Linked DNA regions of Homo sapiens: region 2 is linked to region 1. A link means that fine-mapping ties the variant in region 1 to the expression of a gene that starts in the linked region. Tissue or cell type: macrophages. Region 1 holds a variant in brackets; the other region holds the start of a gene. All regions are shown on one strand. Distances are from middle to middle.

Region 1 (8,260 bases):
CTGTTGACTGGAAATGACTTCTCTGGATTCTTCAGGCCAATTAGAGACTCTGCAGTGAAAAGTTTTTTATCCACATTTGGATGGGTCTAGAATGAGAGGGAAAGGAAAACTCCTGAGGTTCAGATAGACGAGAAACAACCCCTCACTAGGCTTATATGGCCCACAATCTAAACATCCAAAATAGAGTACCTAACAAATTCCAATTCTTTTTCATTTTGAAGAAAGATTTCCCTTCTTCAAAGACTTATTTTAAAATGATTTAAGATACTTAAAAACTAGTAATTTTTTAAAAAAAAAGCTAATTTCAACTCTAAAAGCCATTACAGAACAAGTTTGCACCTGAAAAAGTTAAAAGACTATTAACCAAGTTCTTTCCAAAAATACTTCACAGGGAGCAGGTTCATGGTGGGGCCAGGTTTGCCAAGCAGAAGGCTCCAGTAAGACCCTGATCAGCTGCCTGGGTCAGACAGCAGTTCTGGCCTTATATAAAGTAGCAGAAAAGGGCAAGCTCTGTGTAAAGTCTAGTTGCAATTTTGCCTAGAGACTTAAAGTTGTTAAAATCCAAGCCAATTAAGATAGTCTTATCTTTTTAAAAGAAATTGCTTTTGGGGAGGCTGAGGTGAGAGGGGCATTGAAGGTCAGGAGTTTGACATCAGCCTGGCCAACATGGCAAAACCCTATCTCTATTAAAAATACAAAAGTTAGCTGGGGCTGGACATGGTGGCGCACGCCTGTAATCCCACCTACTCGAGAGGCTGAGGCAGGAGAATGGCTTGAACCCGGGAGGCAGAGGTTGCGGTGAGCCGAGATCACACCATTGCACTCCAACCTGGGCAGGAAGAGTGAAACTCCGTCTCAAAAAATAAAAAATAAATAAATAAATAAATAAATAAATAGCTGGGTGTGGTGGTGCACACCTATAGTTCCAGCTACTATGGAGGCTGAAGAGGAAGCATTGCTTGAGCCTAGGAGGTTAAGGCTGCAGCGAGCCAAGGTTGTGCTGCTGCACTCCAGCCCGCATGACAGAGAGAGACTGTGCAAAAACAAAAAAAAAAACAAAAAAAAGAACAAAAAAACAAGACAAAAACAAAAAAAACCCAGAAGGGCTGGGCATGGTGGCTCATGACTACAATCCCAACACTTTGGGATGATGAGGTGGGCGAATCATGAGGTCAAGAGTTCGAGACCAGCTTGGCCAACATGGTGAAACCCCATCTTTACTAAAAATAAAAAAAATTAGCTGGGCATGGTGGCAGGTGCCTGTAATCCCAGCTACTCAGCAGGCTGAGGCAGGAGAACTGCTTCAACTGGGGAGGCAGAAGTTGCAGTGAACCAAGATCGTACCACAGAACTCCAGCTTGGGCAACAGAGAGAGACTCCATCTCAGGAAAACAAAACAAAACAAAACAAAACAGAAATCACTTTTGGATAGCACTTTACAAGCCAGCAAAAATGTCAAATAATATAAGCACTGCTTCCAAAAGACAATTCTGTGCTGACTACGGTGGGGAAAGTAGACAAAAACACTCTTCCGTAAAAAGGCTTTGTTCTTGTGACGAGATGTCGGCTAAATGAAATGAAATTACAAGAACACCTGTAACATAAAGCAGGGCTTATATATATCTATCCAATAGTTGGAACACACACACTTATATTGAAAGGATTTTATGTACTTTTCAAATACACCATTAGATACTGCCCTTCAGTTAACAAAACAAGCACTGGCAGTTTATTTAATAGCAGAATGAGTAAATTTCGCATTGTGCCACCACGCCTGGCTAATTTTTTAAGTTTTTGTAGAGATAGGGTCTTGTTGCTCAGCCCTCATTGCTCAGGCTGTTCTTGAACTCCTGGGCTCAAGCGATCCTTCAGCCTCAGCCTCTCAGAGTGCTGGTATTATAGGCATGAGCCACCACACTTGGCCTAAAGCCTTGTTTTTTTAAAACTGTATTTCAAGCAAGATCCTAAGTGATTAATTTACTGTTTTCATAACAGCAAAAGACAAACACCTCCTTGTACCTTTTATTGGTGAGTATGAAGTCATTTATTAGATTTCGAAATGACCTTTTATTCAATTCCAATATTTAAAAGCCATCCTTACACAGCTGCTTTACTCACTCTCAGGTAGCTACTGTATGCAATATATTAACTTCTTTCCTAAGCGTTTAGAGTGATGCTAGTTATATAACTTAAGTAATTTTCTGTGGTTCATATTGGGAACTCTAGTTGAGAAAGACTATAATAGGTAGACAAAGTGTTAATACTCCCTATCAAAAGCTTCTACACACCTGTAGCTGCACCCCTTTCTTATCTTCATTTTCCACATGAAGACGAATTCGGCCATACTTGTCATCTGAGATCCTAAGCATGATCATGCCATGCAACTCCATATTCTGTAATCCTCCGTCTCGTCCACAGGTTAATGTTATCTTTTCTTCAATCTTCATATGTACACTATAAAGAGAAAGTAATACATTTGTTCAGAAAGGTAGAAACCAATGGCCGGGCGTGGTGGCTCATGCCTATAACCCCAGCACTTTGGGAGGCCAAGGCGGGCAGATCACCTGAGGTGGGGAGTTCGAGACCAGCCTGACCAACATGGAGAAACCCCGTCTCTACTAAAAATACAAAATTAGCCAGGCGTGGTGGTGCATGCCTGTAGTCCCAGCTACTTGGGAGGCTAAGGCAGGAGAATCGCTTGAACCACGAGGCAGAGGCTGTGGTGAGCCGAGATTGTCCCACTGCACTCCAGCCTGGGCAACAAGAGTGAAACTCTGTCTCAAAAAATAAAAAAGAAAAGAAAAGAAAAAAGAAAGGTAGAAATCAGAACTCCCTTTCTCCAAGGTCTAATGATTAGCCATCAACAACGTTTTTTTAAAGGTGCTACTGCTATAGCTATCAACATTTAAAAGGCGATACCCTTTGATACAGCAATTCTTCAACAGACTCTATCCTACAGATAAATTCTCACCTGTGCAAAACAATCTGCTAAGTTATTCACTGAAGAATTGTTTGTAATGGCAAAAGTTTAGAAACATGTCTGCCAATAGGGGGCTGCTCAAATAAAGGCATATTCACGGGCGTGGTGGCTCACGCCTGTAATCCCAGCACTTTGGGAGGCCAAGGCGGGTAGATCACGAGGTCAGAAGATCGAGACCATCCTGGCTAACATGGTGAAACCCCACCTCTACTAAAAATACAAAAACAAAATTAGCCGGGTGTGGTGACGGGCGCCTACTCAGGAGGCTGAGGTGGGAGAATGACGTGAACTCAGGAGGCGGAGCTTGCAGTGAGCCGAGATGGTGCCACTGCACTCCAGCCTGGGCAACAGAGTGAGACTCTGTCTCAAAAAAATAAAAAATAAAAAATAAA[G/AAATAAAG]GCATATCCACCCGAATGAATAGTAGGCAATGGTGAGAAAACAAACAACTGAAAAAACTTTCTATTTGTAAGTATTTTCAAGCTTAAAAAAATTAAAATTATACAAGGAAGACATATATACCCTTTTCCAGATTCACCTATTGTTAATATTTACCTCATTTGTTTTATAATTTGCACTTGTGTTTCTCTCTCTCTAAACATTATATATGTATGTTATACATTTGATTTTTTTTCCCTGAACCATTAAGAAGCAGATTATATACAACACGGCACTTTACCCCTAAATACTTCAGTGCTTATTTTATAAGATTAGGGATATTCTCTTACATAATCAATCACAGTACCATTATTAACTTCACAAATTTACACTGATAGTTTTTTTAGCTTTTTGTTGTTGTTGTTTTGAGATAGAGTTTCACTCTTCTTGCCCAGGCTGGAGTGCAATGGCGTGATCTCGGCTCACTGCAACCTCTGCCTCCCGGGTTCAAGTGATTCTCCTGTCTCAGCCTCCTGCGTAGCTGGGATTTCAGGCACCTGCCACCACGCCCGGTTCATTTTTGTATTTTTACTAGAGTCAGAGTTTTACCATGCTGGCCAGGCTGGTCTTGAACTCCTGACCTCAGGTGATCTGCCTGCCTCGGCCTCCCGAAGTGTTGGGATTACAGGCGTGAGCCACCGCACCCAGCCTGTTGTTGTTGTTTAAGAGACAGATCTTGCTATGTTGCCCAGGCTGGAGTGCAGTGGCTATTCAGAGACACAATCACAGTTCACTATAACCTTGAACTCCTGGTCTCAAGTGATCCTCCTGCCTCAGCCTCCTGAGTAGGAAGGACTACAGCCATGTGCCATCATGCCAGGCTAACAATGATACAATAATTGTATCCGATCTGTCAACCATATGTCAATTTCGTCAGTTGACCTAATAATATTTTTAATAGTAGTTGTGATATTATGATATACATACATACCGGTTTTCATCCATGGTTCCTAGCTCATAACTCCCATATCCCTTATTATACATAATGTTGGGGCACTTTAGGCCTCAGGAGCAGCCCTTAGAAAAAAGAACCTCTCTTTGACCTTCTCCTGCCCTCCTTTCACCAGCCCAAGGCAGGATCTCCAAAAGGGGTCCTGCACCATATCCTGGAGGAAGATTAATGCTGCACAGAGAGGCCAAGAATTTGGACAGGCCTTGCTGTGTTTCCCCACTCAGCCTATCAGTATTAGGTCATACCCTTGCCCAGTCACATTTCTGCATGCCTGTCAATCATGCCTATCCAATGAAGTCTCCATAAAAGGCTCAAGAGGACAGGGTCTGGGAAGCTTCTGGACAGCTGAACACATGCAGGCTTACAGGAAGATGAACAAGGTCTCATCTATTTTCCAGGAGGGTGGCGTACCCCAGCTCCCTGGGGACAGAAGCTCCTGTGCTCAAGACCCTCCCAGACCTTGCCCTATGTATCTCTTCATCTGGCTGCTTATTTGCATCCTTTAAAATGTCCTCTGTAACAAACTGATAAATGTCAAGTAAGTTTCCCTGAGTTCTGTGAGGTGCTCTAGCAGATTAATTGAACACCCCAGAGGGGGTCGTGGGAGGCCAAACTTGAGGTCAGTAAGAAGTTCTGAAAGTCTGGACTTATGACTGGTGGGAAGGAAGAATCAGTCTTGGGGGACTGAACTCTCAACCTGTAGAATCTGAGGCTATTCCCAGGTAGATAGCATCAGAATTGAATTGAATTGGAGGACACCAGCTAGGTGTGACCGCTTGATGTGTGCGGAAAAATCTAAACACACTTGATCACAGAAGTCTTCTGTGTTCATTGTTGCTGTTGAATGAGAAAATAGAAAAAACAAACAGTTTGAGTTGTTTTTTCTACACTACATTAGTAGAGGATCCAGTCTAGGGTAAGGTATTGCGCATTTAGATGTCATATCTCTGCAGTTTCAAATAAGGAGATTCTTATCTCCAAAATAATTAAATGAAAAATGCAATTGGAAGACGTGTCTAGTTTTACTGCTTTGCATAAAAGGGGGAAAAATAGACACACTGTATACATGTTTTTTATTCATCTGTATATCACAGACCATCCCCCTTAGAAGGATACACAAAAAACTCTGTTAATACTAGTTGTCTCCAAAATGAGAAACTGGCATGGCTGAGTGAGAGGAAGACTTCTGACTGTTAACAACTTTTGAATTTTGTACTATATGAATGTATAATCCAATTTTTAAAAGATTAAAAACTGCTGCTGCTAGAGGCAAGTATTAAGTACAATCTATTCATATTCAGTAATAGACATACGTTTGGCTGGATGAACTACAGAGGCTACAAAAAATATTTTGTTATCCTACCATGTTCTTTGTTCCAACCTCTTAGGTCTTCCTAGAAACAAAGGCATCAGAGTCAAGACCATAAAGGAGTGCATCTTAAGACAATGCATGGTACCATTTTACCTTCACAAAAGTTTGCTCTGTGCTCAAGAGGCAATTTATCATTTAGAAAAAAACAGTGTCTCAAATTCTCTTTAATATGTGATGATCTCCAACATTTTTTTTTTTTTTTTTTTTTTGGAGATAGAGTCTCACTCTGTCGCCCAGGCTGGAGTGCAGTGGCACCATCTTGGCTCACTGCAACCTCTGCTTCCCGGGTTCAAGCAATTCTCCTGCCTCAGCCTCCTGAGTAGCTGGGACTACAGGTGTGTGCCACCACGCCCATCTAATTTTTTGTATTTTAGTGGAGAAGGGGTTAATTTTTTGTATTTTAGTGGAGATGGAGTTTCACCATGTTGCCCAGGGTGGTCTTGAACTCCTGAGCTCAGGCAATCCGCCCACCTCAGCCTCCCAAAGTGCTAAGATTACAGGTGTGGGCCACTGCACTCAGGAATATCTTTTTAAAAGTGTGAAGCCTCTGTCTCACTCAAAGCAACCACTAGGAAGAGCACAGCGGCTTTAGTGAATCAAGAAATTTATCCCAATGTAACCCTGTTCATTTCATACAGAACAGGGCATATAAAGAGTAAATACTTGGCTGGGCACGGTGGCTCACGCCTATAATCCAAGCACTTTTGGGAGGCAGAGGCAGGCAGATCACTTGAGGTCAGGAGTTCGAGACCCACCTGGCCAACACGGCAAAACTCTGTCTCTACTAAAAATAAGAAAATTAGCCGGGTGTGATGGCGTGCACCTGTAATCCCAGCCACTTGGGAGGCTGAGGCAGGAGAATTGCTTGACCCCGGGAGGTGGAGGTTGCAAGATCGTGCCATTGCACTCCAGTCTGGGAGACAGAGCAAGACTCTGTCAAGAAAGAAAGAAAGGAAGAAAGAAAGGAAAGAAGAAAGAAAAAGAGTAAATACTCCTCTTTTATGCACACCTGATAAAGGTATCCTCCTGGTATTATCTTTCACTTGACCTCAAAACCATCAGCAACAGTAGAAGGTCTGGCTTCAAGACGAGAAATCTGAGTCACGAATATGTGAACTTGATAACTACCACTTAAAAATGTCACCAACCAGTACCACAGCCCTGAGATAAGAGATGAATCAAAATATTCCATACTGGCTTCAAATATTTAAACTGCAAAAGATGGCTGGGCATGGTGGCTGACGCCTGTAATCCCAGTACTTTGTGAGGCCGAGGCAGGCAGATTGCTTGAGTCCAGGAGTTCGAGACCAGCCTGGGCAACAAGGCAAAACCCCATCTCTACCAAAATACAGAAATTAGCCCAGCGTGGTGGTGCATGCCTGTAGTCCCAGCTACTTGGGAGGCTGAGGTGGGAGAATCACTTGAACCTGGGAGGCAGAGGTTGCAACAAGCTGAGATTGCACCACTGTACTCCAGCCTGGGTGACAGAGTGAAACCCCATCTCAAAAAAATAAATAAATAAAATAAAAATGCAAAATATATTAATTTGCTATTAAAGATATCTACAAGTTTTGGATTAAAGATTGGTTCTACTTAGACTTTAATTAGAAAAAGTCATGCCAAAATACAGTGTGGGGTCACCATAGCTCTAGTCCCCTAATTCAAGTGCATTCTAAGAGATACGCTATATACCAGGTGTGACTACAAGTAACTTTAATTTAGCTGTAAAAGGAAAGTTCTAAACTTCATAGAAAATAGGTGGCTGAGGGCCCCCAATCATGGTTTAAGGAAAAAGGAAAAGGTCAGGTGCAGCAACGCATGCCTGTATCCCAGTTACTTGGGAGGCTGAGGCAGGAAGATTAACTGAGCTCAGGAGTTGGAGGCCAGCCTAGACAACATAGTAAGACCCTGTCTCAAAAAAATAAAACAAAACAACAGCCGGGCGTGGTGGCTCACGCCTGTAATCCCAGCACTTCGGGAGGCTGAGTCAGGCGGATCACAAGGTCAGGAGATCGAGACCATTCTGGCTAACACGGCGAAACCCCATCTCTACTAAAAATACAAAAAAATTAGCCGGGCGTAGGGGTGGGCGCCTGTGGTCCCAGCTACTCGGGAGGCTGAGGCAGGAGAATGGCGTGAACCTGGGAGGGAGAGCTTGCAGCGAGCCGAGATCACACCACTGCACTCCAGCCTGGGTGACAGAGTGAGACTCCATCTCAAAAAAAAATAAGTAAATAAAACAAAACAAAACCAAAAACGATCTTATGTTAATATGTAGAATCTGCTCTGAATAAATCTTTTAAATCAGGAACGATTAAAAGACAGAGAAAGAATTTATAGCACACTGAAATAAGATTTTTAAAAAATTATGTGGACTGTATTCAAAGCTTGAATTCTTACTCAAAGTTCCTACTTACCTTTCCATATTAATGGGTGGAGCATGCATTTTGGTTGCTTCAGAAGTACGCTTGCCCATACTAGAGGACATGATGGTTTCACCTTCAGATTTTAATTTGTCCACAAAGTT
Region 2 (8,000 bases), 23 kb after region 1:
GTTGCAGTGAGTTGAGATCACAACACTGCCCTCCAGACTGGGCAACAGAGTAACACTCAGTCTCAAAACAAACAAACAAAAAAACAAAGTCAGCTTTTTCCATTAAAACACACTGCCTCTGTATCTCCTGTGTGTTCCCTAACATTTATTGAACACTTACAGCATACCAGCCATTACTCTAACTTCACACAGATTATCTCATTTAATCCTCACAAGAATCCTCTGAGATAGGTACCTTTATTGTCTCCATTTTACACATGAGGAAATCAAGGTACAGAGAAGAAAACTATCCCACCACAGGTCTCATGGCTAAAAAGTAGGTAAGCGAGGATTCAAACAAAGGCTGTTCAACTTTGGACTATACCCTTAAGCACTGCATTATAGACTTCTTGCTCTTACCCGTATCAATTCCATCTCCAATGGCCTTCTAATAGAAATCTTTAGAAAGCTCAAATATTTTTAAATTTTATATGTCTGGGAGGATATATGTCAAACTGTATTTTAAAGTTTTTTTTCATTAAAAAAACTTTTTTAGAGAGATGGGGGTCTTGCTATGTTGCCCAGGCTGGTCTCGAACTCCTGACCTCAAGCAGTACTCCCATCTTGTCCCCCCAAAGTTCTGGGATTGCAGGAATGAGCCACTGAGCCCAGTCAATATTTTAAAAAAAAAAATTTTTTTTTTTTGAGAAGGAGTTTCGCTTTTGTTGCCCGGGCTGGAGTGCAATGGTATGATCTCAGCTCACTGCAACCTCTGCCTCCTGGGTTGGAGGGATTCTCCTGACTTAGCCTCCCAAGTAGCTGGGATTACAGGCATGGACGACCACGCCTGGCTAGTTTTTTGTATTTTTAGTAGAGATGGGGTTTCACCATGGCCAGGCTGGTCTTGAACTCCTAACCTCAAGTGATCTGCCTGCCTCAGCCTCCCAGAGTGCTGGGATTACAGGCGTGAGCCACAGCTCCCGGCCTATTTTTAAATTTTCTAATTGACACATAATACTTGTACCCACTGGCCAGGTGCGGTGGCTTACGCCTGTAATCCCAGCATTTTGGGAGGCCGAGGTGGGCGGATCACTTGAGGTCAGGAATTCCAGACCAGCCTGAGCAACATGGTGAAACCCCATCTCTACTAAAAATACAAAAATTAGCTGGGCGTGGTGGCCCATGCCTATAGTCCCAGCTACTCGGTGGGAGAATCGCTTGAACCCCGAGGCAGAGATAGCAGTGAGCTGAGGTCTCGTCACTGTATTCCAGCCTGGGCGACAGAGTGAGACCCTGTCTCAAAAAAAGAAAAAAAAAGTGACAATGGGTACAAACTTTCTTTAGGGGATGATGAAATGTCCTAAAAAAGATAACAACTGTACACATTTATGGGGTAACTTTTTATTTATTTATTTATTATTTATTTATTTATTTTGAGACAGTCTCACTCTGTCGCCCAGGCTAGAATGCAGTGGTGCCATCTTAACTCACTGCAACCTCCGCCTCCCGGGTTCAAGCGATTCTCCTGTCTCAGCCTCCTGAGTAGCTAGGATTACAGGCATGCACCACCACACCTGGCTAATTTTTGTATTTTTAGTAGAGATGGGGGTTTCACCATGTTGGGACAGGCTGGTCTTGAACTCTTGACCTCTGGTGATCCACCTGCCTCGGCCTCCCAAAGTCCTAGGATTACAGGCGTGAGCCACTTCACCTGGCCCAATTTTAATTTTTGTTACAAAAAGCAGACATATTTTAAGAAACATGGAACAAATTCTTATTTTTTTAGAAAAGTAAAAATCCTGTTAGAAACTATTGCCTTATTGTAGCACCTTCCAGGGCTTCCAACTTGGATCTCAGAAGCTCAGCAAAGACCAGTTGATGCTGCTTCTTCGGAAATATAACGGTAGCTGAATTAAACCACAGAAGAAAAAGCAACCCTGTAAGCATGCTTCTTGAGGAGTCCCATAGTGGCAGTATCTTATAATGGTTAAAAGCAGAGACTTAGGAATCAGACTGACCTGTGTTTGGCTGCTATTTTCAGCGCTTATTATGAGTGACTTTAGGCAAGTTACTTTAACTGTCTAAGCCTCAATTACTTAATCTGTAGATTGGCAGTAACATCTATCTCATAAGGTTGTGAAGTAAATTAGATGATATAATCTAAGTGCTCCCCACAAAAAAACTAAGTGCTCCTACATAGTAAGTACTGCACATTACATATCCACTATTACGAGCAAAACAGATCACAAATTTTTTTTTAAATGCAGTTCTATTTTTAACTATCAGTATGCCAGAAAAGCTGTCTCTCATTTTTTAAAGGCACTTTCCTTGTTTACCTCTGGTAGGTTTTCAGGGTCAAATTTCCAATATTATTTTCTTTTTAAAATGTATTGCTATTATTATTATTTTGAGACGGAGTCTCGCCCTGTCGCCCAGGCTGGAGTGCAGTGGTGCGATCTCGGCTCACCACAACCTCCACCTCCCGGGTTCAAGCAATTCTCCTGCCGCAGCCTCCTGAGTGGCTGGGATTACAGGCGCGCGCCACCATGCCTAGCTAATTTTTGTATTTTTAGTAGAGACGGGGGTTTCACCATGTTGGTCAGGCTGGTCTTGAACTCCTGACCTTGTGATCCACCCACCTTGGCCTCCCAAAGTGCTGGGATTACAGGCGTGAGCCACCGTGCCCGACCAAAAAATTATTATTGTTATTATTCATTATTTATATTTGAGATGGGGTCTTGATCTGTTGCCCAGGCTGGAGTGAATGCAGTGGCCCAATCTCGGTTCACTGCAACCTCTGCCTCCCTGGCTCAAGCAATCCCCCCGCCTCAGCCTCCCGAGTGGCTAGCACTATAGGTGCGTGCCACCACACCTGGCTAATTAAAAAAAATTTTTTTTTTATTTTTAATAGAGTGGAGGGGGGCGGTTCTTGCTATGTTGCTCTAGCTGGTCTCAAACTCCTGAACTCAAGCAATCGTCCCACCTCTACCTCCTGAAGTGCTGGGATTACAGGTGTGAGCCACCGCACCTGGCCTCCAATATTTTATGTTTCTCTCTCCCTGACTTCCCAAATTAATTATGTCCACAGTTTGAAAATATTTGTTCCTTACATCTCCATTCACTCATTCCTCGATTCATCCACCCAATGAGCATTGTTAGTGTCTAATTTCTGCAATACACTGGTGTTACAAAGCTTAAAAATTAATTAGACACAGGTCTTGCTTTAAATAAGTTAAAAGTCTACTTTAGCAAATAAGAAAGACAGGACACAGAGTGAAAAAAAATTTTTTTTGAGACGGAGTCTCGCTTTGTTGCCCAGGCTGGAGTGCAGTGGTGCGATCTCGGCTCCCTGCAAGCTCCGCCTCCTGGGTTCATGCCATTCTCCTGCCTCAGCCTCTCGAGTAGCTGGGACTACAGGCGTCCGCCACCACGCCCGGCTAATTTTTTGAATTTTTTAGTAGAGACGGGGTTTCACCGTGTTAGCCAGGATGGTCTCGATCTCCTGACCTCGTGATCCGCCCGCCTTGGCCTCCCAAAGTGCTGGGATTACAGGCGTGAGCCACCGCGCCCGGCCCACAGAGTTAAATTTGAACCTCAGATACCCAAGGAATAATTTATTGCTATAAGTATGTTCCATTCCATGGCACCCTGTGGAGGGGAAAGACTATAGTGTAATATAGTGCTAGAAAAGGACTTACAGAGTGCTGCGAAATTTCCCCTGGAATGTGTCTACATCCTGGTAAGACTGATCTGGGAGCAACTGCATCCCCAGAGATTGTTGTCCTAGGGGAACAAACGCACACCTTGTTTCCAGATTGAAGGGCTAACTCTACACCAGCCCGAAATTTATCAGCCGCGTTGCCACCCATAGCCGCTAGATGCCGCAACAGACGTATTTACTGAAACCATAGACAAACAGGCGACTTGGCCGCCCAGAGAGGCTTTATCCGTGACTCCTTGATCTTCTTCCTGCGTGGAGAGCCTTCGCGGGTGAGGCTTAACGCGCAGGAGGTCTCACGAGAGTGGAAGCAACTCTCGCGAATTTTAAAATTTATCTTTTTGCCTAGCGACTGACAACAGGCTGGTTGCTTGGCGTGGAATCCTAAAGTGGCCTGGCTTTGAGACTGGAGTGAGACCCCAGCCCTAGGCTGGGGTTCTTTCCATTATAGAGGAGACGGATTCAGAAGGGCTACAGGTAATTAGTACTCATCCCAGCAAAAAGGGAACTGTCTTTCTAGAGAGGCTTAAGAGGACTCCCCTTTACCCCATTCCCGGTTACCTCTTCCAATCTCCGTGGTAACTGTTCCTTCGTCACCTCACCACCAACCGTCCTGCTTCCTTTATTCCCCCAAGAAACTTAGGTGGGATCCTATCTGCAAGATAAGGGTGAAAGTGGAGGTGATGATTTTGGGATTATCGGATGGGACTGAGAGACTGGAGTTTCCCCTCTCTTCGGGGACCCTCCCACCCTACCCCGCCTCAGCCCACCCCACCCCACCCCACCCCACCCCACCCCACCCCACCCCAGAGGTGACTCCAGAGACAGAACTCTTTCTAGAACCTCTACAGCCTTCCCTGAGAAACCTCAACAGCCTTGGCCATCTACATACAAATAGTGTTCTGCCCTTGCGCGTGGTCGTACAGCTTTGGGAAGCTGCAGAAGTTGGCTCTCTTTCCCTCCACGATTCCCTGGTTCCTCAGCCAGCCTGCCAGCAGTTCCTAAATAAGGGCTGCAACAGAATGACTTAACTGCTTGACCGAGGGCCAGGAAGCCTGAAGGAAAGTTTGGATGGGGTGATGGTTTTGTGAAAAACTGGTTTCTTGAGTAAGGAAGAGGAGCCAATGCTGGTTTGGAATATACCTCCTGGCAGAGTGCTTTATGTCTCATGATAGGAGCTATGAATTATGTCTCCCTTTGCTTAGACCAAGGTTGTTGAAAACCAGACATATGATGAGCGTCTAGAGATTAACGACTCCGAAGAGGTTGCAAGTATTTATACTCCAACCCCAAGACACCAAGGTAAGAGAGGAAAGAAGAGAAATGCTACTGAAAGAGCAGGATGGATTCACGGTTGTCTTCAAGAAGTTCTTATTTTATAATAGCAAATGTTGACTTTCAGCGTCAATTTACTTCACTTGCCATTGTTTGTTTTCTGACTAGTTAAGGGGGAGAAATCATAGCCTTCCAAATTACAGGATCTTCCCCCAATCCAACCCTGTCACCATTTACTTCATGTTACTGCTTTGCTCACTGTCTGCCAGGAATTCACTGTTCTTTTTCTTTTTCTTTTCTTTTTTTTTAACTTATGTTTTTCCTAGCTTTGAAGATGCTTCATAACCTCCCCTTAGCCTGCAACCCCAACCAAAATCACAGTGGAATGTTTTTAAAGGACTGAACACTATTTATTTATTCAACAAACTTTTTTTTCTTAATTTTATAGAGACGAGGCCTCGCTATGTTACCAAGGCTGATCTTGAACTCCTAGCCTCAAGCAGTCCTTCCGCTTTGGCCTCCCAAAGTGCTGGGATTATAGGTGTGAGCCATCGTGTCTGGCCAACAAGCATTTTAAAATGCCTACTGTGTGCCAGCCTTATGCCTGGCACTTGGGTAAATAGTGTTAAATGACACAATGTCCCTGCCATCCCGATGCTGGTAATCATGGGAGGCAGATGACAAATGAGTAAACACATGCCAAATGTGGTAAGTGCACACTGATGGAGGCAGATTGTTTGCTGTTAAGGAGAATAACAGTGAGGAAGGAGACCCACTTTTTTTTTTTTTTTTTTTTTTTTTTTGAGACAGAGTCTCACTCTATCACACAGGCTGGAGTGCAGTGGTGCGATCTTGGCTCACTGCAATCTCCGCCTCCTGGGTTCAAGTGATTCTCCTTCCTCAGCCTCCCGAGTAGCTGGGATTACCACACCCAGCTAATTTTAGTATTTTTAGTAGAGACGGGGTTTCACCATGTTGGCCAGGCTGGTCTCGAACTCCTGACCCCAACTGATCCACCTGCCTCGGCCTCCCAAAGTGCTGGGATTACAGGTATGAGCCACCGTACCTGGCCAGAAACCCACTTTTGATAGGGTGGTCAGGGAAGACCTAAAGGGGTGACATGTAAGACTGATAGATGGCAGGGATCCAGACACTGAGGAAAAGTAGACCAGGAAGAGGAAACAGTATGTGAGATGTGAAAAACCTTGAAGCCTGAAAGAACTTGGCTTAGTTTGAGGACCTGAAAGAGACCAGCTTATGGTAGAGGGGACACTACCGTATGATATGGTCAGATCAGAGAGGTAGGGCAGGAAGCACAATAAGCAGAGCTTTGGAGGCTGTGTTGCTGTCGTGTGTGGAATGGACTGTTGTGATGGCTGAGTTGAGATGATAGTGGCTTGGCCTCTGGTGAGGAAGCTGAGAATAAAGAAAAGAGGCAAATACGGTATAAGACATTGTCGCAGAATCACTAAGACTTGGTGATGGATTGGATTTGACTCGAGTTAGGAATCAAGGATGACATCCAGGGTTTCTGTTTGTTTATTGTGGTAAAATATACATAACATAAAATTTGCCATTTTAACAATTTTTAAGTGTGCAATTAAATAACATTAAGTACATTCACAATGTTGTTTAACCATCGCCACTATTTCCAGATCATCCTGAACAGAAAATCCATACCCTTCAAAACAATAGTTCCCTATTGCTTGCTTCCACTCCTCCCTGGTAACCACTATTCTACTGTCTGTATGAGTTTGCTTATTCTGGGAACCACATAAGTGAAATCATACTGTATTTATCCTTTTGTGGCTGACTTACTTCACTTATTGTGATGTTCTTAAGGTTCATCTGTGTTGTTGAATGTAGACTTTCTTTTTAAGGCTGAGTAATATTCCATTGCATGTATATTGCACTTTTTTTTTTTTTTGAGACTGAATTTCGCTCTGTCACCCAGGCTGGAGTGCAGTGGCACGATCTTGGCTCACTGCAACCTACGCCTCCCGGGTTCAAGCGACTCTCCTGCCTCAGCCTCCTGAGTAGTTGGGACTACAGGTGCACACCACCACACCCAGCTAATTTTTTGTATTCTTAGTAGAGACGGGGTTTCACCATGTTGGCCCGGATGGCCTCGATCTCCTGACCTTGTGATCCACCCACCTCGGCCTCCCAAAGTGTTGGGATTACAGGCGTGAGCCACCGCACCAAGCCTATGCCACGTTTTTTAATTCATTCATTTGTTAATGGACACTCGGGTTGTTTTCATATTTTGGCTATTGTGAATAACACTGCTATGAACAGAGGTGTACAAGTGTCCATTTGAGTCCCTGTTTTCAATTCTTTGGGACCTAGCCACCTAGGTTTTTGACTTGAGCGTGTTTATGCTCTTGACAGCTGTGGATATTATAATTTGTTTTTAATTTGGGCTAATTTAGTAAATAAAAAAAGGGTTTAATTTGCATTTATTTGATATAGAAATCATTTATCATGTTTTCATTCCAGTTAATGCCTTACATCTAATTATACTTTTATTTTAATTTAATTTTTTATTTATAGAGACAGAGTTTTGCTCTGTCACCCAGGCTGGAGTGCGGTAGCATGATCACGGTTCACTGCAGCCTCGACCTCCTGGGCTCATGCAGTCCTCCTGCTTCAGAACCCCCGGTAGCTGGGACTACCAGCCCATGCCCCCATGTCCAGCTAATTTTTTTTTTTTTTGAGATGGAGTCTTGCTCTGTCGCCCAGGCTGGAGTGCAATGGCGTGATCTCGGCCCACTGCAACCTCAACCTCCCAGGTTCAAGCGATTCTCCTGCCTCAGCCTCCTGAGTAGCTGGGATTATAGGAGTGTGCCACCACACCTGGCTAATTTTTTTGTATTTTTAGTAGAGACGGGGTTTCACCATGTTGGCCAGGCTGGTCTCGAACTCCTGACCTCAGGTGATCCACCCGCCTCAGCCTCCCAAAGTGCTGGGATTACAGGCAGGAGCCACTGTGCCCGGCCTAATTTTTGTATTTTTTGTAGAGACAGGG

Alleles and levels. Positions count from the first base shown, and alleles are read on the strand shown. Sizes are in standard deviations (SD) of each study's normalised expression.
For the expression in macrophages of the gene that starts at base 4,033 in region 2, G is the low allele of the variant in region 1 and AAATAAAG is the other (large effect, 1.4 SD a copy in Nedelec 2016).

Evidence for each region. PIP is the estimated chance that this variant, and not a neighbour inherited with it, causes the effect.
Region 2: it holds the start of IFT46, and the variant in region 1 is fine-mapped to the expression of IFT46 in macrophages (Nedelec 2016, PIP 0.91).

Annotation. Positions count from the first base shown.
Region 1 is chr11:118,584,535-118,592,794 of GRCh38, reverse strand. It overlaps ARCN1 (archain 1 coat protein complex I subunit delta), which reads right to left. Exons shown (of 10, transcript NM_001655.5): 5 at 8,151-8,260; 6 at 2,289-2,454; 7 at 1-86. Among named protein-coding and RNA genes, the nearest start is that of ARCN1, 16 kb to the right of the region's middle. RefSeq lists a silencer at 1,759-1,969. The variant G/AAATAAAG (reference allele first, on the strand shown) is at 3,373.
Region 2 is chr11:118,561,964-118,569,963 of GRCh38, reverse strand. IFT46 (intraflagellar transport 46) reads left to right here and starts at 4,033. Exons shown (of 12, transcript NM_001168618.2): 1 at 4,033-4,174; 2 at 4,903-4,999. LOC124902764 (a long non-coding RNA gene) reads right to left here and starts at 4,903. Exons shown (of 4, transcript XR_007062907.1): 1 at 4,590-4,903; 2 at 4,259-4,352; 3 at 3,678-3,762; 4 at 1,365-1,886. RefSeq lists an enhancer at 3,761-3,990.